Homo sapiens: one gene and its partners. The protein of the gene in region 3 purifies or fractionates together with the protein of the main gene of each other region. This does not show direct contact. Each region holds a gene or a part of one and is shown on either strand. Other genes may lie near its edges. The genes, in order: EXOC1, EXOC7, EXOC5 and EXOC3.

Region 1 (7,028 bases), on a different chromosome or scaffold from region 3:
GTCTTTTAAAGGAATGAAGATGGAACGTTTTAATGAAGCTTGTCTCTCTCATACCATATTTCACAATTTACCAAGCAAATGACCTTCTTGATATAGCTTGAATTAAGAAACACAAATAGAGAAATCATTCAAAACAGTCTACATTTATGGTATTCCCATTAGAGTTTGTAATATTTAAAACAACAGATAAAAAAAAGTAGAATATAAAGTCTTAGAGCTTGGAATTGGAACCTTGGTCATCTGAGTCTTACTTCTGTCTTGGAGCAGATTCAAATTGAAAATACAATTTCCCAACAACAAGCAAAAGGCAAACCAAGACAGATTTATTTGATGTAATTTTCACTCAATCTAATTTGCCTAGATAGCCAGAAGTTATTTGTCAGCATTTTGTGAAAACTGTATTAAAATTACACAGACTGCTAGAGTTTTGGAGCTAGTTAACTCATTTCCTGATAAGGTTACCTAAAGCTAATTATGAATGTGTATCATACTAGTTGGTACACATTAGCTAAATAAGCGTCCTGAATTTAAATTCTTTTAAGTTAAAAGGGATTTCTTTCACCTAATTTATATACTGTACTATATACACAAAATAACCTAGTGGTTATGAATTTTAAAAAATTTTCTTTTAAATACAGACTATTCAGAAGGAAACATTTCTGGCCTAGAGGAAATGAGGAGTTCCTTGGTAACTGAGAAAGAAAGATGGGAGTATAAGACATGCCAAGTACAAAAACCCACATCATTATCCATGTCCCTTCTTCATAAATGTTTTCAAATCAGTCTGTTGGAAAATTTTCTTCATGTGAGAATATATCCCAATTTAAAATGGAAATTAAAAAGAAAAAAGGACCCATTATACAGAAATTACATATAAAATGGTAGAAAACAACCAATACACTTCTCAGATTCATCTTACTGATATCTACTTAGGTTAACTTGGGAAACTGAACTAGAGATGGCAGAAAAATATCACAAAATGAAACTGACCAGTTCAAAATAACAAGAACTAGAACACAGGGGCAACAGAAGTTCACAGCTACCACAGATGTTATACACAAGGTATATTAATAGGTCCATAATCCCTTTCTGTAATTCTGACAGCCAAAAAGCTCTGAAAACTCAGACTAAGCTTGGCACCAAAACAATTTTGATGGTAAAATGTGACCTGAACTGACATGGGCCTATTTATAGTGCTTAGAGTGACTATTCATATTTTTTGTTGCAAAAACATGTGCTTGGAGTGATTATATAATATACAGTATATATACTGTATTGCTTTTCTAAAATCTGAAACATTCTAAAAACACTCCTGACCCCCAGAATTCTGGATAACGGAGCGTAGACCTATGTGGATATTCTTTTCTGGGTGGCTACCTGAATATAAAACAATCACATCTTCCAAAAGAATCAATGAGGACTAAGAGCTAAAGTGTTGAAGAATGGAACAATTCTGTATTTTTAGAATGCCTGGGCTACCATATCTTTTCTGTAAGGGCTAACAATAAAGATGAACAAAATCAATAATATTAAGTAAAATACACAGGCATTACCATTGGACTATTATCTATTTCTATGTTGCCAAAGGTCAATATAAACATTCTATTACAGAAATGTTTTCTAACCAAGATGCCAGAAGGATAATCAGGATTCTACAGCATCACATGTATTAGATACTAGCCAGATATAGATATTATAGTTTTAGGTCTATAAATGTCTCCAAATTGTGTTTTATTTTTTAAAAATTTATTTTTATTAATAGAGATGGAGTCTTACTATGCTGCCCAGGTTGCCCCCAAACTCCTGGGCTCAAGTTATTGGCCCACTTCAGCCTCCCAAAGTGCTGGAATTACAGGTGTGAGCCACTGCGCCTGGCCTAAACTATGTGCCTTAATTGGTCACGCTGATTAAAGGGGAAGAATATTTGACAGACTTATATCATACAAATGTTTACCAAATAGTTTTTATTAGTAACAATGTATCGTTATCCAAAACAATCTTCCTCATTAATTTTTCTCAATGATTCAAGACTCAAAATTATTGTCTATGTTCTTCTACTACTGTTTACTCAGGCACAAATGTCAATTAACTTGTTCAAGGTAACCCAGCTAGGAGGTAGGAGAGTCAGGATTTTGAACCCAGGAAGTTTGGCTCTAGTGTCTGCACTCTTAAGCACTTTGCTATAGTGACTTTTTTAAAGAAATGATACATTGGGGTCAAAATTTGAATAAATTTTCAAGATTTGGAACTCCTTCTTTCTGTTATGGCATACTTACTTATTCTTTTCTTAAAAAAAAAATCTGAGCAAAGTTCCAACAAACCTCACAAAAATAGATCTTAATCACAAGTCTTTCTAAGCTTTTAACCAGAGATCATCAATCCGTGTTTACAAATATGCTTAAGGAAACAATTTTTGTAAAAGAAATTGAATGCTGGTGGTCTGCAATACAGGTTTTATTTTATTATAGCTTGTTTCTGTATATGTATGTTGAGAGAAAAATTTCTAAACTTAAGCATATGGTAAAAAGTTCCACAACTTCAGTTTTTTCCTGGTTGTACTTTTAGTTCAGTGCATTTCAGTTTATTTTCATTTTCTCTAAGTTATGTACATAATCAGTCTCATCATGTTGCTAAAGGCAAAAGTAGATAGAATCATGAGGTCTCTGTAGAACCAAAGGGGGAAACAAAAGGCAGAGAGTAGTTATCAAAATAAATCTTTCAAAAAACAACCAAAACAATTTTTTAAAGGACATATTCTTTATGCAAATATTTCCTCAATTTCATTAGCCTTAATTTGACTGTTTTCAATATCATAATCCTAATTAGTGTAAACTGACCAGATTCTCATTCTTGATCTTTCTAGATACAGAAATCCCTAGTAAATGTAAAAATTATGGGCAAGAGCCTATAATTTCAGGGGAAGTTGAGTGTGTAAGATCTGAAAGATCTAAAAGAAGCTAACTACTCTTTATGTAACATTACTCTCATATTATATTACAGTGATTATTATATTAAAATACACTTCAAGTTTCACTTAAGTATAGATAACACAGAAGTATTAATAGGAAAGTTGCATTACAGATAGCATGCTCTGGATCAGTCATTCCCAAATGCAAGATGTTTTTCCTGGCCTATAGCAATAAGAAAAAGTACAATGAAAGAAGTGAGTCCTTCATAAGGGTAAATGTATTAATTTTTAAAATCGGAAAGGAAATTCTTATTCTTTTAGTGCCAAAATGTCATTTTTAAAATGAAAAGATAATGAAAGTGGATAATAGTATTTCTTTTTAAAGGTCTTTATTTGGTAAAATAAAAAAATTGGTGATTTGGTCAGTCTCCGAATTTTATTTCTTTTAATTTTACTAATTTGTGAATTTTAAAAAGACTGAGAATCAATGCTTTGAAATTACTGTTATATTGTGAATAGATTATTTTCACTGGATTCTTCAGTACAATATTTGTAAATGTTGTAACTATACATTTGCTATAAACTGTATTGCATGGACTCGTTCAAGTCCTACCTTATCTGCAATTCCTTCCATATCTCACTCCTTAAATTCTCAATAAACTCACTTTTGATTAAACCTTTTTAGCACTTACAGTCCACAGTTCTACAATTAGCAATTTATTACATACATTGCTAATGTACATTAGTCTTAACTCCTTACAAAGAGTAAGTACATTAGTTTTAATTCCTTCTTACAAGCATCTTGAGGGTAGGAACTATTGCTTATTCTTATATATGGTAGACAGTGAGTACATAATAAGCATACAATGAAAATTCTGTGATTGCCAAAGAGGTGTACCATATTATTTTAATCAATTTTCCCAGCTTGTCTCCCTACCAGGAATAGAAATACCCATGTTTCTCAACAATTTTGCTAGGTGACCTGATGCACTGAATGCAACACTAAGAAAATCTTTCTTATGTGTGGGATATCTTCTTCCACCGTTTTTGGCACACCCCAGGTTGTCGCAGCGTTCTGATTTTTAACATGCATCACTCACATGTAATAACACATATCAGCTTTTCAGAAATGGGAAGCATTCATTTTAAACGAGGCCATTAGTTTACAAGGCAAGAAGCAAAATCATAAATAACTGCATGTTACAACAAACAGTTAAGGGTACAGAAAAGACTATTGTTTACTGGCTGGTATTTTCAATACTATCTAACAAATGTGGATAACATAATTGTCAACAGTGTCATTTTTAAAAACTAAGGAATTGTATAGAAATAGATGTTATTGAAGTAAGTACCTAACAAAAACATGAATTAGTATTTCCTATGTGACATTTAAGCTTACTTTTTTCTCGACACTTTTCAGTCAAGTGGAATGTTAAGGGAATCTCTCTGATTCCCCCCTACCGTGCTTTTAGTTAGGTGGTCTTCCTTTACACTCCCACAGTCTCGCTGTCATAACATTTATCCCTCTTGAGTATATTATTTGTTTGTCTCGCTTCCCTAGACTGTGAACTACTAGAGGACAGGATTGGTCTCTCATTTATCCCAAGTTAATGTCTGGTATGTACCTCAATCACCTGGCAATACTAAATAAATGAAGGATTAATATTACTACTATTACTAAATGAAGGAGTAATATTACTATTTATTACTAAATGGAGTGAAAAAATGACAGAAAGAAAAGCAAGCAGAATGAGATTAAATGCTTTTTTGGCCAAAATAGTCTCTACTATGGGACATTTAAAAACTGCTACGAATGTGGTTAACAGGTAGCTTAAATCAGTAAGTTATAATCTGTAAAGATTCGGCTGCTGTTAAGTTTAGCAAACTTTATAGAAAAAAAAAAACAGAATCAGAGAAGCTTGAGCCAAATTTGATGTACTCACAGGAACCGAAAGAAAGTAGGACCTGTTATAGAGTTGAAGGAGGGCCTGAGTAAACTAATTGGAAATAAAATATAGTAAATACAATTGTTTTAGAATATTGCAAAGTGAAAATAAAGTAAAAATCCATTGTTTTCAGGCAGTATTTCTTGATGAACGAGATATTCCCCCAATTTTTTTTCATTCTATAACTCTAATAAAATAAAAGGGACTTTTAAAAGAGATGAAAAAATAAGAAACCTAATTTATTGTATTAGATATTAAAATGGCTTTTATTCAAATCCCTCAAAGGTACTCTTAATATTATTAATAACAATATTATTACCACACTCTTAATTATAACATCCTTTTCCATATAAAAATATAGGTAAAGCATTTATATGAAGATTAGATCAACTGAAATTTGCAGTTGAGCTAGTCATTTTCTTAACAATTATACTATGTACTAAGTACATAGAACTTACAAAACATTTAAAACACTGAATCAAGTCCTGAGTCTCACCTCAAAATACTGAAAAATAAAACAGGTCCAATAGTAAATATCTAACAAGTTTGGACTTACTTTATAAATAAAAATATCTAAGTAGTATATGCAATTCATATGCATAGTTATTTGATTTCTAGAATCAGAGAGCATCAGCTGAAAGGAACTAGACTGTCTACCAAAAGAGGCAGCTGAGGCCCAAAGTACATCTATGAGCAAAGAGGCTCCTATTTCAAAATCTTAAAATCAAATATGTGAAGGAATTGACTGCAACCCCAATTAAACATATTAACATTTTTGTGGAAATGTAAGGTTAATACATAAATAAGCTATAGGAACATGCTCGTTTTAATAATAAAATAAAATTACCTGTTGAACAAAAACATTGTTGAGGTGACTGGCCAGTCTCCGGGCAAAAAGCTCTCGCAAATCACTGAATCGCTGCTGTTGCTGTTTGACTGCCAGAAGCAAGTCATGGCCTGACACAGAACGACATTTTGTGACCAGTTTAATGGGTAAAAAGATTTCCTTGATGTTTAATGGAACATTAAACGTATCTAACGTTTTGAAGAACCCAAAAGTTTTATGGGTGTATTCATTTACATGATAAAAGTTAAGCAGGAGAAAAATGGGATTTCACAGTAGTTCTCAAAGTGTGGTCTTGCCTCACCATCGCCTGGGAACTGTTAGAAATGTGGATTCTAAAATCTCAGCCCAGATCTGCTGAATCTGGGACTGGGGCCAGGCAATCTATGTTTTTAACAAGACCTCTAGGGATTCTGACGGACACTCAAGTTTTGAAATAATTGCTCTCGTCTAACCAAAGCACCTACTTTCTGCTGGGTTCTGTGGATAGTACTAAATAAAGATCATGGTGTTGACTATAGTCATTGAGGACAATTAGAAGGAGGAACTGAAGTAAAAAAGTTCCTAGTATCAATAGAAATAAGTTGGGAAATCAGTGAAACTTGAATAGCTAATAATGTAACCCTTAAACCACTTGTCTCATGTATTTCTTGTCAAAACCTTTATAACAAGTTACAGGCTTAGTCTCACATTCTTGGTCACATTTTTGTCATTTCTAATGAACATACCTGGTCGAAGAGCTACATTCATGCACTGCAGAAGGGCATCAGCAGCATTGGTGCAGGCCTCAATGCCTCTGGAAGAAGCAAGATCTCCTTCCTGAAGGGCCTTTATATGACCTTTGGCCAAGTCCATGTGGTTCTAGAATATATGCAAACACACCATTTGCATGTGTAATTTTGGGAAATTTACAGGCAAGATGCTATTCAGTCCTATCATTAGGTCTTTGGAATTATTTTAAATCCTGTTCTCACAAGGAAATTAAAAAATGTTTACAAATGGGTTTTATATATCATCACTAGTTTTTTTTTGTTGGTAATTTATGATCATACTTACCACAAGGAACTCTATCTCAGATAGGAGTTTTACATTATTAGTGTTACTAAGATGAATTAGGTGGTTGCTTTCAGAGATCTGATCCATTTGTTCTTTTACACTTTGGAGCATTTCCTCATAACTGCTCAGTTTCAATTCAATCTGATCTACCTCCTTTAGAGCCTCATCTAGCAATTTCATCAGGATGTTGACTTGTTTTTCAGATGCCATGATTGACTGGATGTTAGCCTACAAAGTTAAAGACCAAAACAAACAAACAAACAAACAAACAAAC
Region 2 (6,300 bases), on a different chromosome or scaffold from region 3:
GAAGCTTGGTGGGTGAGGTTCCCTGGGGACTGACTCTCAGTACCTACTGGGGAGCCTGAGTCAGAGGGGACATGAGTTTTCTCGGGGTGCTCTCAACTCTCTCTGCTCCCTTCAAGGCCACTCTGTCTCTGAGCTTATCCGCAGCACCTGCCCAGGCTAGAGCCCTGGATACACCCCCTAGGCTCGCCCGGCCTCCCTGCCTTGCTGTCCCCACTCGGCCTTCCCCACTGTGCAGGCCGCAGCTTCGTCTGTTCAGTAGGGTCTGGTAGAGGGGATGTTCGAATGTAGGGGAGAAGGTGGAGAGGCTGTGGGGAGCCCATTCTAAGACTCTGCTGTTGACAAAAGGAAAAAGGGGGCCTTGTAGAAACCACCCAGGGTGGGTGGGGGCAGGAGGGGACAGGGCGCTGGCATCTCACTCTTTTCCTGCCAGCTTTTCTGCTGACATGGGCCAGCTCCATCCCATCATAGAGGGCAGCTCTGGGTTCCAAAAACTCCAGGGCTGGTGCTTCCTGCGGCAGGGGCCACCCTGTGGCTTAGCAGGCAGCCAGCTCTGCCCAAGGAAGCCCAGGGCCTGTCTCAGTGTCCCCTCAGACTGCTGCATGGCCTGGGGGAAGGGCCGTTGAGGGTCTTGGCTGCTGCCACTGCAATAACAGGACTTCTCCTCTCACAGAGACCAGCTCTTCGGCCACCAGCTACAGCTCTGAGTTCAGCAAGCGGCTGCTAAGCACCTATATCTGTGAGTGTTCTCCCGGGCAGACCAGCAGCCCTGCTGCCTGCATGCCCTGCCTTTCCCTTCCTTCTGTCTGTGCTCTCTGGCTATTCCCAGGGCCCTCTCCTAAGTGCCATCTGATCTTTGGAACCACAACCTGACCTCTAGTTCAGAGGCTGAGGGGAGTTGGGCTAAGGCCTCCTGAGGCAGGACGAGGAGCGATGGATAGGAGCGCGTTCGCGGGTCCTGGGGTGGGGTCGTTTGGGTCAGACTGCCATGGTGGGTGTGGCCCCATTTTTCCCTGTGCAGGTAAAGTGCTGGGCAACCTGCAGTTGAACTTGCTGAGCAAGTCCAAGGTGTACGAGGACCCAGCTCTGAGCGCCATCTTCCTGCACAACAACTACAATTACATCCTCAAGTCCCTGGAGAAGTAAGTGGCCTGCGGGAGTGAGTCTGCGGCTCTCACCTTCCCCTCGGCTGTGCAGCTGTGCCAGCCCCTGCCCCCCTGGGCTCCTTCTCTTGTGGACGAGAGGGGAGGGGGTGCTTCAGTCTCCTCCACCCCAGGACCCGGAAGGTGGGATGCCATAGAGCTTGTGGAGTTTGGGGTGCAATGGGAGGCCCTCCCGGCATTGCCGCAGCCTTTGGGCCTGAGGAGCCAATCCTGTCCTCCTCTCCTCTGTCCCCTACCCCGACCCAGGTCTGAACTGATCCAGCTGGTGGCAGTGACACAGAAGACTGCTGAGCGCTCCTACCGGGAGCACATTGAGCAGCAGATCCAGACCTACCAGCGCAGGTGAGAGGCTGGGCCCGCCCTGCTCCTGCATGGGCCCCTGTGCCACCACGCACTCTTCCTTCTCAGCACCTCAGGACACAGAGTCGGTCACGGGGAACTCCTGTCCTCTGGACCCTAATCCTCCACTTGGTTTCTAATCAAACTCACGGGGTGGAGAGAGAAGCCCCCTCCTCTACCACTACCTGCTCCTAGGGGCCCACTATGGCCACTTTAGAGGGGAGTCTGCCAAGTGTCAAGGCTAAGAATGATTGAAGAGCTGGCTCTCAGAGACGTGGGTAATGTTTACCTAGGAGAAGAGCAAGGTCGCGAGAGCACTTGAACGTGGCTGAGCCTTGCTCTGTGAGGATCCCGCTGCTTCTCTGGTCCTCTTTCTTCCTGGCTTTGTTTCTTCCCTTTGAATGTGTCTACCTCTTCCTTCTCATTTATCTGCCCTCCACTCCTTTCTTTCTCATCTGTTTCTCCATCTTAGTTTGCCACGATATTGATGTGAAGTATAGTTGACAGTATTTGTCCAATTTATTGAACACTCAAGTGTTTCCTAATGTTATCTCAAAAAGTGACCAGTTTAAAGATTTTCTCTTCCCAGGAAGAAAACCTGTTGTTTGCTTAGTTGTGACCCACATCCCTTCCTACCACCACCCACCAAGTAGATCCAGAGATTTAGCAAACGAAACAAGCCAGGCCACTGAGGCAGGCCACCCTCTGCCCTCATGCTTCTCTTTCTGTCTGGCAGCTGGTTAAAGGTGACTGATTACATCGCAGAGAAGAATCTACCTGTGTTCCAGCCGGGAGTCAAGGTGGGCTCAAGACCTGGGCTGGGAAGGGGTGTCTGGCAGACGGGATACTTTTTGTCGTGTCTCTGGGAAAAAGTGGACAAGCATCCCTCTGGGATCAGAGAGCAAAGGATGCATGTGGCCATCAGGACACAGGAGACAGGCCCAGACCAAGGGTGTTTGGGGAAGAGTGGGGGAAGGCTGCTCTGCTCTGAAGTGAGCTTTCTCTGCTATCTCTCCTGGCTTCCCAGCTCCGGGACAAGGAGCGGCAGATTATCAAGGAGCGTTTTAAGGTGAGTCGGGGTCCTCTCCCCTCCACTGCTTGCTGCTGCTGTTGAGGCAACACAGACCCAAAATGTTTGTCTCTGGGTGCCTTCCTTTTTCACCTTTTTGGTGGCCAGGGCTTCAATGATGGCCTCGAAGAACTGTGCAAAATCCAGAAGGCCTGGGCTATTCCAGACACAGAGCAGAGGGACAGGATTCGCCAGGCCCAGAAGACCATTGTCAAGGAGACCTACGGGGCCTTTCTACAGAAGTGAGGCCTCCATTCCCCTCCCAGCCTGTGCTGCCCACAGCCCCAGTGGGCCTCTTCAAGCTCCTCTTCCTCAAGGGAAAAAGGAGAAGGGTGGTGGATTTAGGCAGCAGATCCAGCGACCTGGGCTTTGGGGCGGGGCCAGACAGGGAATCGCTCAGGGCCACCCCTTCCAAGACTATCAGGAGTGCCTTAGGCTGAGGGTGGAGCTGGGGAGGGGTCGGCCCTCCCTGTCCCCTGACCACAGTGCCTCCTCAGGTTTGGCAGCGTGCCCTTCACCAAGAACCCGGAGAAGTACATCAAGTACGGGGTGGAGCAGGTGGGCGACATGATCGATCGCCTTTTCGACACCTCTGCCTGAGCCTGCTGCTAGCCCTGCCTGGTTCCACCAGACTGGCGTGTCATTGGACAGATAAACCAGTGTTAGCTTGCCTCTGGGCTGGGTGAGCTTGAAGTCCTCTGGGACAGAGACCTGTCTCCACGCCTCCGGGAGCTGTGTCCCTGAGCCCCCTAGTCCTGGCTCCTGCTTTTTCCCCACAGCCCGTGTTCCCAGCCGAACCAGCACTCTCCCGGAAGCCTGGGGTCCCTCCACACCTTGGCTTTTATGACCCTGATGGCTTCTGAAACAGGAAAAGAGAGAAGGAAGACAGAGGCCTGTGCCCACTGCTGCTCCATGTGTACCAAGAGCAGCAGGGCAGAAGGGCCCTCCCTCCAGCCTAGGTCAGAGGTGGGGACAGAGAACTCCCCTACAGCCCAGAGATGTGGCAGGGCTCAGAGAAGCAGCCAGAGCTCCTGGAGGAAAGGCAGTCGGGACTGACCCCCTCTCTTAAAACACATTCCCGCCCGCCCACAGGCCTGAGGTCTGGGACCTTTCCCTCCCAGGAGTCCCCTAGGTGGCTGGGGGAGGCAGGCTCACTGGCCATTTTCCCTAGAGTCCAGCACACTGCAGGAGGCGTTCGGAGGAGGAGTTCCGCCCCACCCTCTACAGCCTTCCTCAGGCCCCTGTCTCTGGCCCCCAGCCTCAGTGCCTCTTGGCCCAGGGCCAGGCAGTCGTGGTTGCAGAAGGAGCAATTAGGCTGCCTGCCTGTGGGCTGGGAGACAGGGACAATGGGGAAAAGTTAAGGAGCAAAATGGGGGTTGGAAGCAAAAAATAGGGCCCCACCTATTTAGGACGAGATTGAAGACTGACCCTTGAGGCACACTTGCACTGGAGATGGGTTTATTTCACGCTCTGTGCTTGTGTGCTAGCGGAGGGAGAGCTCAGGGTGGCTTAATCCAGAGGCCCTGTCATGGCCCGCCCCCAGCCATGGGAAAGCAAACTTCATCCTAAGGTGTGCAGCCCAGGCCCTGCCCCTTTACAGTCTAGGCCGCCTGCCATGGGGTGCAGCCTCTCCAGGGGCTGCGTCAGACTTGCACGCTGCCCACATCCAGATTCCTGCAAAGACGAATTGGGTGCACAGCACCCCAACCACATACACGAGGAAGAAGATGCGGTCAGCAGTCTCAGGCCAGCTTCTCTGTGACCCCTTTACTCCTCTGGAGGGCTCTGTGGGGAGAGATACAGGGAAAGGAGCTGTTCTTCAAGGTCCCCTCAACATGAGCGGAAGAGCGAACCCCAGGGGTCATCAGCCTGTATCGCTTCCTTTCTTAGATTCTCAGCTGATGAAAATTTGGGTCTGGCCCATTTCAGGCCATCTTCAGTTGAAGAAACACCCTCTTAGGCTGTGCAAGGCATGGGTTATCAGGGGATTGAGGTCACCTGGGACTTCAGGGAGGCTCAGCTTGCTCCCTGCCCCAGACCTGTTTCTTCTAAGGGAGGAGGACATGGTGGAGACCAGGGACAGGAGAGCCAGCAGGGTGGATGCAAGGGGCCTCTACCCACACCTGGACCTCCGTGCCCTCACCCCAGCCCTAGGTGTGCACCTAGGCCTCATTCCTTACCCCCCAGCCCCTGCCCACCTTCAGCAGGATGAGGCCCTGGGTTGCCGTGCTCTCGCTGTTCCCCTCTCGGGGCTGGGCTGGGGCCGCTCTTGGCCCCAAGGTTGCCCCGGGCCAGCAGCCCAGCCAGCAGCACAGTCTCTATGGTGCTGAGGAAGAGCAGCAGCAGCAGGATGGTGAAGTAGTAAACTGGGGGAGGCAGGGCACAGGGAGATGCTCAGGGGCCAGTCCCTGTGTCTCTGGTGCCCAGCGAGCTGAGCACCAGTGGGTGACCGGGGAGAAACAGGGCAGACTGGGTAAGGGAGCAGGGCTTACTGAGCAGTGGGTTGCAGGAGGAGGAGCTGGGCAGGGCCTGCACCAGGGAGGAGTGGAGGACGAGGTAACTCAGCAGCAATGTCACCTTGTAGCCTATGCGCTCAATGGCCCGGAGGGGCAGCAACCCCCCGCACACGTCAGCCAACAGCAGTGCCTCTGCAGGCACCAAGAGAGCGATGATGGACTTGAGCGCCGTGTTCTTCAGCCTCAGCTGGAAGGGGAAAAGTCAGGGCCTTCCCGGCGGGGGGGAAGGAGGTGGGCATCGGGGGCATGGGGCCTGGCCTCTGGCCGTGCATCCTCACTCCCACCCGCCTCCAGCAGCCCTCTGTCGGCCTCCTCCCGACTTGACTCACCGTCACCTGGAAGCAGGGCACCAGCTGCTGGGGTGGGACTTGGGTCTTCAGATCATAAACTACGTATTCCCTCTTGACACTCACAATCTCGTTCACCACGTGGGCCTGGAACTCTAACTCCATCGCTGAGGGGTGGGAATGAGAACTATGAACCAGGAAGGAGAGATCCCAGCTGCCAAGTCTGGGGGTAGCAGACTGGAGCCCAGGGGTGATGGAGACTTTTGATGGCTTTTGGCAGGGACAGACTTGGACACAAAACCGATCCATAGAAGGGCTTCCCAAACCTTGTTTTGCAACATCCCAAATTGTCTCCAGTTGAAGGAAGGCCTTTATCAGATTCATAGATGAGCTTTCATTGTAAAAATAAATGTACTTTGCACCACTTCATGATGGAGGGAGAAGTGGTCACAGGCTCGTCAGTCTATCATCTCACAGCTGAAGCAGGATCCCCAGGGCTACCGCTGTGGTCTCTCATGGAGGGAAGGGTAGGACTTCTCTGCCAAGTTAGATGTCACCTGATGGGTTTATACAGGGTGGCTGCACCTTCAGGTGGTTTCCAGGAGTGAGGCCATGGCAACCTGAGCCTCTGGCCTTGCTGCAAGGGGCCGAGCCACTGCAGTCGCCATGGCTGTGGAGGGCAGTTGCTCTGGGGAGGACAGAAGACTGATGTGCTCGGACCTCTGGGATTGCAGAGCTGCTGCGAATGTTTGAGTCTGTCACCCTAGAGAGGGGCCCTGAGGCTACCGCTGAGCACAGAGATGGGCTGCCACTCGAGTGGGGGGCGCAGTGGGAGAGCAGGTGCTGCCCGCCTAAGCCTGGGGTAGACTGCTCTGAACACAGACCTGGGAGTTCGCCTTCTGTCTGCCTTTGCCCCTTCCCCTTGCCCC
Region 3 (7,028 bases):
AAAATTGAAAATACATTCTACTGGAGAACTTAAGAGAGGCACTTAGGTATTATTCCTTATAAAATATTTTCACATAACTTCATGTGAATCCCCCATGTTATCCTCTAAATGGTACACAGTATTCACAAACAATATGCTTAGAGGTAGCTTCACAGTTTTCTTTACATCCAGCATTGTCCAGACTCTATTTGGATATTTTCTATAGCAAAAACCTAAAGGTTATTTATTTTTCTAAAAACAGGGACTCACTATGTTGCCCAGAGTGGTCTTGAACTCCTAGCTTCAAGTGTTCTTCCCACCTCAGCCTCCCAAGTAGCTGGGAAGCTGCAGACTTGATAAAAGTGCTACAATAAAAGGCCAGAGTTGAAAGGAACCAGTTACAGTATAAAGATTAAAATGATAGGCAGGCAAAGAGGGATGGCCTCACTTAGAGGCACCTGCCAATTTAAGATTACAGGGGCATCAGGAAGGCTTCTCACCTCTCAAAGTTTAATCTCAAAACTCTGGAAGTCCACCAATGGAGACTAATTCCTTTGTTAGTTCTATCCAAACTTCACTTAGTTTATTAACATAAAGATAACTGGAAGGGATACGACACTTTCTTCATTTAAGATTCCCAGTGGTGAAAACAAAGAAAGTCACTCATTGGAACTATAAATGAAACTTAGCTTTCTTATTCCAGGTTCCTACTTCCTTCCTTAACCCTCCATATTTCCTCCTATTAAGTCACTAGGCACTTATAATTCTACATTTTACTGACCTTTCACTGATTATAAAGTAATTTAAGTGATTTTTGAAAGTAAACTTAATTCCAGTTTCAGACTTTTAAATTAAAAGTGGCTCAGTTGGATACTGTCTCTTAAACACAGTAATATAAATATTAGTATCTTGGCTAAAATGAATTATTGACAATTTTAATACATGTTGCACAGTACATATTAATATAGAAAAATACATGTTATCAGCAGCATGATGTTGACCATGTTCTAATCCATTCCACCTGCTCAAATATTAGTGCAAATAATTATATATTTGTAATGCATCACTGCTGTCTAGCAAAATCTATGCCTTCTGAATAAATGACTTTCCTCTGAGGTTGACTGCTATGTGAAGTATGATGTGATATATTCCTATTTAAACTGGCTTTGTATGGTGAGGCAGACTGCAACCTTCTAAACCACTTAGAAAATGGGCGAGTGTGTTTAATTACTCATCTTTCCCCCCAAAAGTCGATAATCACAAAACAAAGGTTAATGGTACCTATCAAATAATAATGATAAAATACCTCGGGTCTAGTTCAAAAATAGGAATTTTGTTAAGCCCAGGGGCAGCCTAGCTGCTTTAATTTGGCAATTAAAATTTCTGTTCTCTAAATGTCAGGTTTCTGTCCCCTATACATTTGAACAGTTGTTTCCTCCCTAAATTTGTAAAGAGAAATGATTGATCACTGGTAGAAATAAAAGGTAAGAGTTATGACAGCTTTTAAAACCCTTAACATGCAATTCTGATTACATGAAAATGACTATCTACTGTTAATATACTAAATATTTTGCCTTACATTTTCACTCCAGCATTAGTCATTTAAAAACTACCAATGTACTAAATAGTTAACACAATTGGCAAGCCTATGACATTTAAAATAGTTTTTGAACATAAAAACACTGATTTCTTCATATCTTCCAAGGTAGAGTTGTCATTTACTTCTATGTCACAAAATATAGTACAAAATATTTGGTCTCTTTCTATTGTGAAAATTATCAAGCTGGAAAAGTATATAAAATAATACCAATAAAGATTTGTGATAGACATATTTCTATTAGGTACAAACTTAACATTAAAATTTCATGACCACTTATAATATTTAAAAAATCAAATTTAAAAAGTATGACCATACATTGAACATATTAAGAAAAACACAACAGTAAATTAGATATTGACCCTGTATGCCAACTTTGTAATATAAATACTACAATAAGAATCATATTGGAAGCAACGATTAAGCAAAACTAATGAACCTATCAAACTAAAGGATCTATTTAACGTTACGTAAGGAGAATAGCATATAGAACCTAAAAGTGAGTGAGAAAAGATTTAGGTTTCAATCTGAGCATTTTACTAGCTGTAGACCTTGACTGGTCTACTTATCTTTCTATGCATTAGGTTTTTCATCTGTCAAATGGAAATAATAGTACCCAAATCCTAGGGTTGCTCTAGAATCCAATAATATGTGCAAAGGACTTATTAGCACAGTGTGTGAGACTTAAATCAATACATGTAACTATAATTATCTTTATTATGCAGCAAAATTTTTTAAATTGCTAACTTTTAACTTCATGTAGAATTATTCAGTCTAACAATATGAACTGATCTTTTCTTCTAAAGTATAGAATAATTACAGGATAGATCAGAGAGAAATAATACAGAAACTGAATATAGTTAAACTAATTGAATGAAAGCACAAAATGCTTTGTATGTAAAATTCAACAATATATGGGTAATGTGCAGAATATTTTTGCGTTAAAAAAAGTTAATCTCCCAGATGTGAGCTTTGTTAGTCACCAACAAATTATGTACTGACTGAACTGCTGTCTCTCAAACACAGTTCAAGCATGCCTTAGCCACTACCTTAGGTACTTGACCACTTTAAGGGGTTTTGTGGCATTTCAAAAATCAAAATCTCTTTATCCAGATCCTTGTAAATATTCACCATTACAGGTAAGAAAAACGCATTTTAGGGAAGCAGTGAATTCTCCACTTGGAATCAATCTACTGATTGATAATTAAATTATTTCACTGTGAACCAGAAGGCTAGTATTTAGAAAGCAAAATATTTAGAAGTGAAAGAGGGGGGAAAAAAGAATGATCTACAATGTAATATAAATTAACCTAATTTAAATTAGATTTTAATTTAACCTACTTTGATAGTTTTTTAAAACAAGGAAGATCCTAAGGACTTGCAACTATGGCAATCCTCAAAATGGGACCAAAAATTGTCCTGGAATGGTCAGGTGGTCATCCATCTAAAGATCCATCCAGCTACTATTTAATAATTCTTCATAAGGACACTTCATCTACTCTGGTTGACTGTCATTTTCAACATCATAATTTACATAAGGTAGGCTTCCTTTATTAAATTCGTATTCTGTATTTCAGATATTTCTCAATTTTAGAAAAACAATGCACAGTGTGTTAAGAGCATATTTTCAACTTCATTCAATGCATTACCTAAATACTGCATATTAGCTCATGCGGTATTGTGTAATACTGCAAAGACCGTACTTACGTAAATGTTGGTTAAAGTTACCAATTATACAAAGCTCCACTCTCTACCTAAAATTTTACCATGTGCAAAACGAAAAACATTTTAGTTATTGATCATCTCTTCTGAGCCATACACTTTGGGCAAAATTTTGTGATGGCTATAAATATGAAAACACTTAAAAAATCAGAATACAAAGAATGCATATTGCCTCACATGACACATTTTTTTTTTTCCCTCAGAGAAAGACCATCTGTTTAGGATAAATTTCTAGTCTTGTTTATATAGTCAAGTATTTTTTGCTAAAAAAGAAAATGAGAAGACCTGTGCTGTGAAAAATTTTAAAAATCTCAAATTTTTAAATAAAAAATCATTTATAAAATTCAGGATGGATGGCTCTAAAATATAAAAAGAGTGAAATAAAAAAAACAACTGCAGGGAATTTGTTTATTGAGCATTAATGTTAACACTTTTAAATTAAGTATTCACTTACGAATTTTGTCACTGTCCTATCAACGGACATAATAGAAAATATTGCACAGAACTCAAACATGAAAATAATAAACAAAATAACTAAGCAACAAGTATATGCTTTACATTTTAAAAATTAATCCAAACAAAATAATTTGAAGCACTTCTCTGATTTGGAAGTCTTAAAATGTTATCTCATGTTTTATTTGAGATTTTTTTTCGTTTTTTCTTTTTTACAAATTGACACTGTACAAAGAGCTTAAATGGCCAGTAAAACTACTGCCTTAAAATTGTTGGCTTTAAGTAACAGAGGTAAAATTTGAATTCACATCAGAGCTTTCTAAAATGGCAATAGTACAAGCAAATGACTTTCTCTAGTATCCAAAACCTGCGCTGGCTCTCCCTTGGCTAGAAACAAGACAGCCTTCTAAAGCTGCCATAATGTCCTAAAATGCTCTGAAAGAAGTTGGTATACTTCATTCCCCAGCTTACCTTGGTAACACTGGACTAAACAGAAAATGAAGAAAATTCAGTCAATAGTAACTTAAACAGTACTAAGTTAGCTCTGGACTTAGAAGGTTTGGTAAAGTTGATGACATTCAGAATAAGGTTCTCAGAAGAAAAGCAGTTTTCCAAAAATAGGCTAAAAAGCCTATATTAAAGAAAAAATGCCAAGAGTGAATTGAATACTTAAGTTTATCTGTTCCTAGAAGACTATGAACACCACAATGGGAGCTGAAACACTATATATAATTTAGAATGCATTCTCCCAGAGCAAGTTTATAAGGTTTATAGAATAGTAATGGCCTTTCTAAATTTTCACTTGATATTTAAAATTTTATAAGTGATTTATTATGTCATCAAATTAAGCCAATTCCATTAACTATATCCAAGTAGGAATAACTTCAGAAATGCTTTGAAAAAGGACAATGACAGACCTATAGACATGAAAAGCAAACAGCCTTTGCAAAGCTCATCTCCAAATCTATCAATTCTCAATTCTTCTTAAAATAAAAGACTAACCACATGTTCAGCCATTCCATCTTATTCAAGTTTAGCATTACGACAGAAATCTCAAAGGGCTGCATGTTGCTAAACACTGTCAGTATTTCCTATATGCACCATTTAGACTATACCTCACTTTTTTTTACTTCCCTTATAATATTAAAATAATGAATAAATATGGTCCTTTAGTTAAGGTCCTCCACCTTAAGTGAAATACAAAATAAGGTAGTTTTATTAATTTCTTACTAGAATTGGCTTAAAATCTATTTACCAAATAAGAAATAGTAAACTTTTAAGTTTTACCCAGAAAGCAGAAGTATTCCGATCCACTCCTAATGTCTACATAAAATAGTTCATCATTTTAGTTCAGTTTATGACATTTTTTGGACTAGTATTAATGCTGTACCTCAGAAAAAAATCCAATCAACCAACTGCAGAAAGTATGCTTAATTGTTAACCTTTTGAAAGAGGCAAAAAAATTATTTACGAAAACCTAAAATAATCTGATTAACAATTGATGCTGAAAAGGTCATTAAAAACTGAGGAATAACAAATGTAGTTTTCCTGTATTTCACCTATTATTAATGGAAAACAGAATGGCAAAATTTCTAAATGGAATATGTTAAAAGTACAAGAACCGAAAACACTGGTAACATTTCCTTTGCCTTCTGACAGCAACATTTTCTAGGATAAAAACAGTGACATGTAGTTTTAGAGAATCTGAAATTTCTACATTCAAGAATGGAATTAAAATTCAATGTGAGGGGAAAAAAGCAAAATATAGCTAGTGGTATCCAAACTTTAAATAAAACCTCAAAGGTAAGTATGGCTGCTGTTTTGTTCCAGTCATTGTTTCACAAAATGTTGGCTGTGTCATAAGGTATCTCCTGTGCTTTCTATCAACCGAGGGCTGCTGAAGTATAAGACATTCCTCTGTAAAGGAACTGACACTGAATTCCTTTGTAAATTCAATCTCAGCTGAAGTGTCGAGCAAGGCGGGCAGATCTATAATCAGCACGAAGTTGTACGAAGGAGTGAAGTATATTCTTGTCCAGATTAGCAAGTTGTTCTCCTGAGCAGACTTGCTTTAAATTATCTGGGGCAACTACCAGAAGATTGCAAAGAGCATGCAGAGTATCAAAAAGATGTAATACCATTGGAATCTGAATTGAGAGAAGAAAAAAAGTAACATTGAAACAAAACAATTTCCAGTTTTACAATTAGCTTGTAACTTTTTACATACTGTCAGGTGGGACTTACTAGTGTGGGTGAAGTTCAACATATTAGAATTTTTTAAAGATCACAATGCATTAAAACTTAAAGATTTCAGTAGTTAAATAAACTTGCTATAATATTTCAAAAAGATTCATGTGTCAATTCTCTTCAATAGTAACAATCATATATACTTCAGAGGACTAAAACTAGTTATTAACATACAGCATTTTTCATAATTTAAATGTTACAGAAATATTCAGGGGGACATAAATGAAGACAACATTTTTTTCCTAATGTGTGACATATATAACATTAGTCATGGATGTCAATAAGTCAAAGACTGTGGAACTGAAAATACACCATAAAGCAAAAATGGGTTTAATATTAAATATATGGGCCAGATGTGGTGGCTCATTCCTGTAAACCCAGCACTTTGGGAAGCTGAGGCAGCAGATCACTTGAGCCCAGGAGTAAGAGACCAGCCTGGGCAACATCATGAAACTCTTTGGAAAAAAAATAAATAAAAATTTAAAATTTAAAATAAAAAAAAATAATAATTGGAACAACACTGTTTCAGGTAGAATGTGATAATCTATCTCATACAATATCAACAAAAGTTATAAACCTTTCACTAATTATAAGTAAATAGTGATTTTTAATAATCTGACTTATGCTCCTGGGCCTATTTGCAAGTTTGATGTTTTTGTGTACACATACCTTGAAGTCTTTGGCACACTTCCTATATTCGGCTACATCACAAATGGCCAACATGCCACCCATACAACTGTAGGAATATTGTTGAAGATGCTCATAGATAAGTCGATGAAAACGTACTCCAAGTTCCATCAAAACTGTATCCACATTCTTCCCATCCATGGAATTTTTAATCTTCTCCACTTGTTTTCTTACGTAAGCACAGACTTTTACACAGGCCTATAAAAGTTTTTCTACACTCATTACACAGGAATGTATACCAGCTTAGCTAAAGAGGAAATACAGTTTCTCATTAATCTTTAAGTATAAAAGAAAAAAATCTAGGGCACAGTAGGATACACCAATGAAAATGTTAACAAAGTAT
Region 4 (7,028 bases), on a different chromosome or scaffold from region 3:
AGAGAACACCCCTAGCATGAACAGTGTGAGGATTCCACCAGCTTTTTCACCATGAAGGAGACAGACCGGGAGGCCGTTGCGACAGCAGTGCAAAGGGTTGCTGGGATGCTCCAGCGCCCGGACCAGCTGGACAAGGTGGAGCAGTATCGCAGGAGAGAAGCGCGGAAGAAGGCCTCCGTGGAGGCCAGATTGAAGGTGAGGCCACCTGCCCCACTCCCAGGATCTGTCTTGGGCTTCAGGTTCTTGCTTGACATCACCATGATGATTTTGCTAAACTAGCCTTTATGGTAATGTGCAAGGAGGCAGAGCTGGACTTTCTTGAGCAGTTACTTTCAGCAGTGTATTACCACTCAGTAGCTTTGCTTAGAAGACAGTGGGAATGGTGAAAACACCAAAGGAACAAGCTTTTAAACACCCTGAGGCCGGGTGCGGTGACTCATGCCTGTAATCCCAGCACCTCGGGGAGGCCGAGGCAGGCGGATCACCTGAGGTCAGGAGTTCAAGACCAGCCTGGTCAACATGGTGAAACCCTGTCTCTATGAAAATACAAAAATTAGCCAGGCATGATGGTTGACGCCTGTAATCCCAGCTACTTGGGAGGCTGAGGCAAGAGAATCGCTTGAACCCAGGAGGCAGAGGTTGCGGTGAGCCGAGATGGTGCCATTGCATTCCAGCCTGGGCAACAGAGTGAGACTCTGTCTCAAAAAGAAAAAAAAAACACAGAAACAAAAACAACACCCTGAAAGTGTCTATTAAGTTTTTAAACAATACTGGAGGAAGGAGAAGTAGTCTTATTTAAAGCTCTTCTACAGAGCACCACTAGAGGGCATTTTGTTCAGATTGTTTTAACTCACATTTGACAGAGAGCGGATCTGAAGCTCAGGTGCCGATTCTGTCCTGTGGGTCAGCCGTCCTGGGGCCAAGTGTGGTGCTGGCTGAACAGCAGGAACTCCCCCACCCCAAGCCAGTGAAGTCCTGACCGTTCTCTCTGCCTAGACAAGACCTTTTAGGAACCTAGGATGCCTGGGAGAGCATGGGTGACATCCTTCTGAAGGTACCGTAGCAGGCCACGGCCCAGGGCAGACCCGTGGTAGTGTCCAGGATCACCAGGTGTGAGGCTAGATGAGGAGTGTCCTGACCTTTTCTCATCAAGGCTTTAAAATGCATCATTGTTCTGTTCCCAGGCAGCAATGAAGAAAAAGGTACACTGTGAATCAATTAAATCCTTGTTGATTTTATTTTCTTTTCTGGGTATTGACTGTTTCCTGCTACTCAGTGGCTCTTTCCTGAACTTGACCCTCCTGGGGAAGATTTGTTCTTCAGGAGGCAGCGCATGGCTATCATTGGCTCTGCTCACCCGTGTGGCGTCTCTCTTTAGGCCGCCATCCAGTCACAGTTGGACGGGGTGCGCACAGGCCTCAGCCAGCTCCACAACGCCCTGAATGACGTCAAAGACATCCAGCAGTCGCTGGCAGACGTCAGCAAGGACTGGAGGCAGAGCATCAACACCATTGAGAGCCTCAAGGACGTCAAAGACGCCGTGGTGCAGCACAGCCAGCTCGCCGCAGCCGTGGAGAACCTCAAGAACATCTTCTCAGGTACCAGCCAGACGCCGAGGCACTTGCCCCCACTCACGCTGTCTTTGCATGACTCACTGAGTGCTCTGTGTGCAGTGTGCTTTGCAGCCCGCACTGTAGACCTGTAGACGGTAAGTGTGATTCTTGTCTGCTCAGCGTCTTTTTTTGAACGTGGATGGAAGTGATCAGCTGAGCATGTAAAGGCTAGGAGAAGGCTTGTAGTTCAGTGTCAGGACAGAGGCCCAGAAGCGGGCTGCCCAGCAAATGCAGTGTGGAGGGATTCCCTGGCTGAGTGTCGTTCCCTTGCTTGCGATGTGGCTGTTAGACTCTGTGAGTGCAGAAGAATGAAGACGCCGTGGCCCATGCTTAAAAGGAGCTGCAGGAGAAGCCACCCTGTGCATGGGACAGAGCAAGCAGATCCCAGAGCAGAAGGGTTGAGGCGAGCAGCAGCTCCCAGGCAGGAGGAGAAGCGTGTGTGCACAGGCCAGGGCAGAGGCGGGGCTGAGCGCCGTGGGGGAGTGACCCTTTCAGTCTTCTCCCTGAATGCCTCAGTTAGAAGGATGCCAAGGGCCCTGTAACCTGTCCCTGAACGGTGCCAGCTGGCCCTGGGTGGTGGCTCCCAGCATTTGTGTTCACAGTCTCCTCCTGCTTGCTGTGACAGGAGCTGCTTCCACAGCCTCATCCCTCCCCTTGGTCCCCGCTCTGTGTCAAGGTCAGCAGCATCCTTCCAGTCCCCAACTCAGAAGCCTTGGCAGGGTCTGATTCCTTCCCTTTCTTTGTTCCTGTCTCTGGCCTCTTGGCAAGTTCTTCCTGTTCCTCTACCAGACGTCTCTGCCCTGATGTCTGTATGACACTTCCCCATCCCCAGCCGTCACGTGCCCCAGCTCACCCTTCACAGTGGCTGTGCTGCATCATCTGTGACGCTGCTCGGCTCCTGAGGCCACGTGTGAATTGGCGCGGTTCTCCCCAGCTGCCCACAGCGCACCTTGGTAATCCGTGTCCCGTCCACCCTGTCCTCTCTGCCCTCCTCTCGTGCTTGCGGCTGCAGCATTGCCGAGCACCTTGTCCCGTTGCTTTGTGTGTGCCCTTCTTCCAGGGCATGATCCGTAGGGTCACATGTGTGGCTGCAGTCCGTGTCTCTTTGTGCATGCCCAACACGAACGCCACTGTGCTGCCAACTCAGAAAGCAGCTCTTCTTGGTGACTGTGGGCCGCCTGGAACAGGAATAAAGTCCTCTCGACGGAGTCTCCTTGGTGATGCTCAGCTGGCAGCTTTCTAGTTAATTTCCTCTTATTTCGTATTGGCTGGCTACATTTCCTTCCGGTCTTTTAAACTAATGCCTGATGACCAAAAAGGTGCATTACTGGAATTAGTTTATCCACAGCAGTTGAAAATAATTTCCTTTCCTTGGTGAACAAATGAGCCTGCGTGGTATGCATGTTTTTTGTTACGGATAAATTTTCATTGAGAAGATTGGTTTGGTTGCCTTCAGACTTGTCTCATTGCCTATAACTCAGCAATGCTGTGTACACAGCTCCCCTCCCCCATTTTTTCTTCTTCTAAAATGCATATGTACAGTTTGCCGTCTTAACCATTTTTAAGTGTACAGTTGGGGACTATTAAGAACATTCATATTGTTGTGCAACCATTGCCACATCCGTCTTCAGAACTCTTTTCATCTTGCAGACATGAAAATCTGTACCCATTAAACACTGACTTCGCACCCTCTGCCCCAGCTCCTGGTCACCACCATTCTGCCTTCTGTCTCTGTGAATTGGATGACTCTGAAGACCTCATAGAAGTGGCATCACACATTATCTGTCTTTCTGTGACATGCTTATTTCACTCAGCATGATGTCCTCAGGGGTCTTCTATGCTGTGGTATTGTAGAATTTCCTTCACTTTTAAGGCTGAATAATATTCCATTGTATGGATGGACCACATTTTGCTTATCCGTTTGTCTGTTGGTGGACATTTGAATTGCTTCCACGTTTTAGCTATTGTGAATAATGCTGTAGTGAACATGGGTGTACAGATGTTTTACTTTTATTTCTTTCTGGTATATACACACAAGTGTAATTGCTGGACCATGTGGTAATTTATGTTTAAATCTTTGAGCAGCTGCCAGACTGTTTCCTCCGGTGGCTGCAGCATTTTCCACCATGAGTGTGTGAGGTTTCTGATTCGTCTGCATTTTCATTCTTCTCTTAGGTTTTTAAAAATATCCCTTATGGCTGGGTGCGGTGGCTCACGCCCGTCATCCCAGCACTTTGGAAGGCTGAGGCAGGCGGATCACCTGAGGTCAGGAGTTTGAGACCAGCCCGGCCAACATGGTGAAACCCCGTCTCTACTAAAAATATAAAAATTAGCCGGGCGTGGTGGCAGGCGCCTGTAATCCCAGCTACTCAGGAGGCTGAGGCAGGAGAATCACTTGAACCCAGGAGGCAGAGGTCACAGTGAGCCGAGATCGCACCACTGCACTCCAGCCAGGGGGACAAGAGCGAGACTTCATCTGAAAAACAAAACAAAACAAAACAAAAGTCCCTTATGTTTCCTTTTTTGCCCCATTAATTGTTTAAGAGTATGTTGTTTAATTTCCACAAATTGGTGAATTTTACAGTTTTCCTTCTGATACTGATTTCTAATGTCATCTGTTGAGTTTGGAGAAGATACTTTGTATGATATTTATCTTTTAAAAACCTGAGTCTTAATTTGAGGCCTAATCCATGGTCTTTCCTGAAGACTGTCCCATGTGCACGTGAGAATAGTGTGTGTTCTGTTGTTGGGTGTTCTTTCTGTGTCTGTTCAGTCTGGTTGGTTGGTTGCATTGTTCAAGTCCTCTCTTTCCTTGTTTAGCTTCTGTCTGCTTGTTCTGTCCATTATTGAGAGAGAGATATTGAAGCCTCCGACTATTACAGAACTGAATGTTTTTCCCTTCAGTTCTATCCATTTTTGCTTCATGTATTTTGACGGTCTGTTAGTAAATGCAGAAATATTTATAATTGTTACATCTTCTTGCTGAACCTTCTATTAATACATATGGCCTTCTTTGTGACTAGTTTTTTTTTTTTTAATTTAAAGTATATTTCATATTTATTAGTATAACCACTCCTGTTCTCTTTTGGTTATTATTTATATGGAATATCTTTTTCCACCCTTTTACTTTCAACCTATTTGTGTCTTGGGCTCTAAGGTCAGTCTCTGGTGAACACATAGAGTTGAATCATGTTTTATTTTTTAAATCTATTTTGTCTACCTCTTTTGATTGAAGATTTTAATTAATTTTGCCTACCTCTTTTGATGGAAGAGCTTACATTTAAGTGATTACTGATAAGAAGGGACTTCTGTCATTTTGCTGTTTGTTTTCTATATGCGGTATAACATTTTTGTCTCTTATTTCTGCATTTTTTTTGTGCTTTTGATTATTTTGGTAGTAAACATTTTAATTCCCTTGTTTCTTTTGCGTATATTCTATAGCTGTTTTCTTTGTGCCTACCATAAAGATTACACTTAACATCTAACATTATCTCGCTTCAGTTTGAATTTATATCAACTTAACTTCAATAACACACAAAAACCGTCCCTATATGGCTTCATCTCCACTCCCTTTGGGTTGTTCATTTCACAAAATTACATCTTTATATATCATGTGTCCAAAATCATAGACTAATAATTGTTTTTTAATGCATTCATTTTTAAAAATTAGGTAGAAAACAATGTGGAGTTAGAATCCAAAGTTACAGTATTAGTAGCTTTTAGACTATTTTTTAATGTATTAGTTTCTTTTTTATTTGTCCCTTTTAACCAGAACAAATATTAGTCTCTTAAGTCATGTACGAAACAGAGTGATGAGTTAAAAACTGAAGTGTTAATGATACTAGATTTTACGATTGTCCATGAATTTACCTTTTTTGAGGCCTTTGCTTCTTCACGTGGCTTCCAGTTGCTCTCTAGCATTCTTTCTTCTCAACCAGTGGGACTCTATTTAAGCATTTCTTGCAGGGCAGATCTTGTGGTAACAAGCTTTTCAGCTTTTGTTTATCTGGGGATGTCTTAATATCGCTCTCACTTTTGAATGACCATTTTGCTAGATTTAAGGTTCTTGGTTGACAGTATTTTTCTTTTAGCACTTTGAATATGTCATCCCACTGCCTCTGGCCTCCAAAGTTTCTGGTGAGAAATCTGATCTGCTCATAATCTTATTTTGGAGCCCTTGTTTCTGACAAGTTGCTGCTTTCAGAATTCTTTCAAAAGTTTGATTAAGTTGTATCTTAGTGTGGACCTCTGAGTTCCTCTTGCTTGGAGGTCATTGAGCTTCTTGGATCTTCATATTCATGTCTTTCATCAAATGTGGGGAGTTTTCACCTATTATTTCTTCAAATAATGTCTTGCCCATTTCTCTCTTCTCCTTCTAAAAGTCCCACTAAGCATATGTTGGCCTGCTTGATGATGTCCACAAGGTCCCTGAGGCTCTGTTCACTTTTCTTCAATCTTTTTTCTTTCTGTTCCGGATACTTGATATTTCCCATTGTCCTGTCTTCACATTCACTGATTCTTTCTTGCGCCTGTGCAGATCTGCCTTTGAATCCCTTTAGTGAATTTTTCATTTCATTTATTGTACTTTTCAGCTTCATATTTTCTGTTTGGTTTCCTTTTGGATTTTCTGTCTCATTATTGGTATTTCCATTTTGCTCATACATGTCTTTCTTCACATCTTTAAGTTCCTTAGGCATCTTTAAATCGTTGTTTTAAAGTCTTTCTCTAGTAGATCTGCCATCAGATCTTTTACAGGAACAGTTTCTTATGTTTTCCTTTGAATGGGCCATACTTTCTTCTTTCTTTGGGTGCCTTGTGATGTTTTTGTTGTTGAAAAATGGACACTTGAATCGAATAATGTGATAACTCTGGAAATCAGATCCCCTTCCCAGGTTGATGATTCTTGTTTTTGGTTGTTGTAGGCTCTCTGTGCCAAGGCACAGCCTGAGGTGTGAACTTCAAGGTCGTGTCAAGTCTTTTCTGAGCCTATGCCTTTGCCTGGGCATGCATTGGCCACTTCCGAATTTTTCCTATAAATGCAGTTACTTTTGAATGTCTTCATTCATAAATATCTGGCTTTCAAGAAGGGGAACAGATGAAGGGGGTGGTGAAGACATTGGCCCTTTAAATTCCCTGGAGCTCTGTGGGGGTGAGGAGGGACCTGTGAACAGGGGAAGATGCAACAGTGGCCACTTACCTCTTCGCACCTCTGTGGTCAGAAGCAGCAGTCAGTGATCTGAGTACAGATCTCCGGTGTGGAGGACAGGGTTCTTTTTGCCCAGCCAGGCTGCAGGCTGTGTGCAGGCAGCTTTAGGAACACATCAGCACATGCACAGCTGCCTGCGGGGTGGGAGGTGGGGCCTCGGTAGCCACTGCCCAGCTGAGAGCTGCAAATGACCACAGTTAACCACAGTT

What was found.
Region 1: the proteins of EXOC5 (region 3) and EXOC1 purify together in Homo sapiens (affinity purification with mass spectrometry; 5 studies listed by BioGRID and IntAct, with this or other methods). This does not show direct contact.
Region 2: the proteins of EXOC5 (region 3) and EXOC7 fractionate together in Homo sapiens (co-fractionation; 4 studies listed by BioGRID and IntAct, with this or other methods). This does not show direct contact.
Region 4: the proteins of EXOC5 (region 3) and EXOC3 purify together in Homo sapiens (affinity purification with mass spectrometry; 8 studies listed by BioGRID and IntAct, with this or other methods). This does not show direct contact.

The regions. Positions count from the first base shown.
Region 1 is NC_000004.12:55,870,632-55,877,659, reverse strand, and holds part of EXOC1 (exocyst complex component 1), read right to left. Parts: intron 6,983-7,028; coding exon 6,755-6,982; intron 6,560-6,754; coding exon 6,427-6,559; intron 5,812-6,426; coding exon 5,702-5,811; intron 4,906-5,701; coding exon of another isoform or gene 4,852-4,905; intron 1-4,851.
Region 2 is NC_000017.11:76,080,516-76,086,815, reverse strand, and holds the end of EXOC7 (exocyst complex component 7), read left to right. Parts: intron 1-670; coding exon 671-736; intron 737-1,018; coding exon 1,019-1,139; intron 1,140-1,406; coding exon 1,407-1,502; intron 1,503-2,235; coding exon 2,236-2,299; intron 2,300-2,526; coding exon 2,527-2,568; intron 2,569-2,676; coding exon 2,677-2,810; intron 2,811-3,065; coding exon 3,066-3,168; 3' UTR 3,169-4,162; coding exon of another isoform or gene 4,163-4,353; 3' UTR 4,354-4,766; coding exon of another isoform or gene 4,767-4,934; 3' UTR 4,935-5,060; coding exon of another isoform or gene 5,061-5,271; 3' UTR 5,272-5,413; coding exon of another isoform or gene 5,414-5,538; 3' UTR 5,539-5,800; downstream 5,801-6,300. Other genes in the region: ligand-gated cation channel ZACN precursor, read right to left, coding at 4,163-4,353, 4,767-4,934, 5,061-5,271, 5,414-5,538. UniProt on the Homo sapiens protein: Component of the exocyst complex involved in the docking of exocytic vesicles with fusion sites on the plasma membrane.
Region 3 is NC_000014.9:57,202,900-57,209,927, forward strand, and holds part of EXOC5 (exocyst complex component 5), read right to left. Parts: intron 6,884-7,028; coding exon 6,668-6,883; intron 5,899-6,667; coding exon 5,710-5,898; 3' UTR 1-5,709. UniProt on the Homo sapiens protein: Component of the exocyst complex involved in the docking of exocytic vesicles with fusion sites on the plasma membrane.
Region 4 is NC_000005.10:446,155-453,182, forward strand, and holds part of EXOC3 (exocyst complex component 3), read left to right. Parts: 5' UTR 1-51; coding exon 52-195; intron 196-666; exon of another isoform or gene 667-1,054; intron 1,055-1,184; exon of another isoform or gene 1,185-1,238; intron 1,239-1,378; coding exon 1,379-1,598; intron 1,599-7,028. UniProt on the Homo sapiens protein: Component of the exocyst complex involved in the docking of exocytic vesicles with fusion sites on the plasma membrane.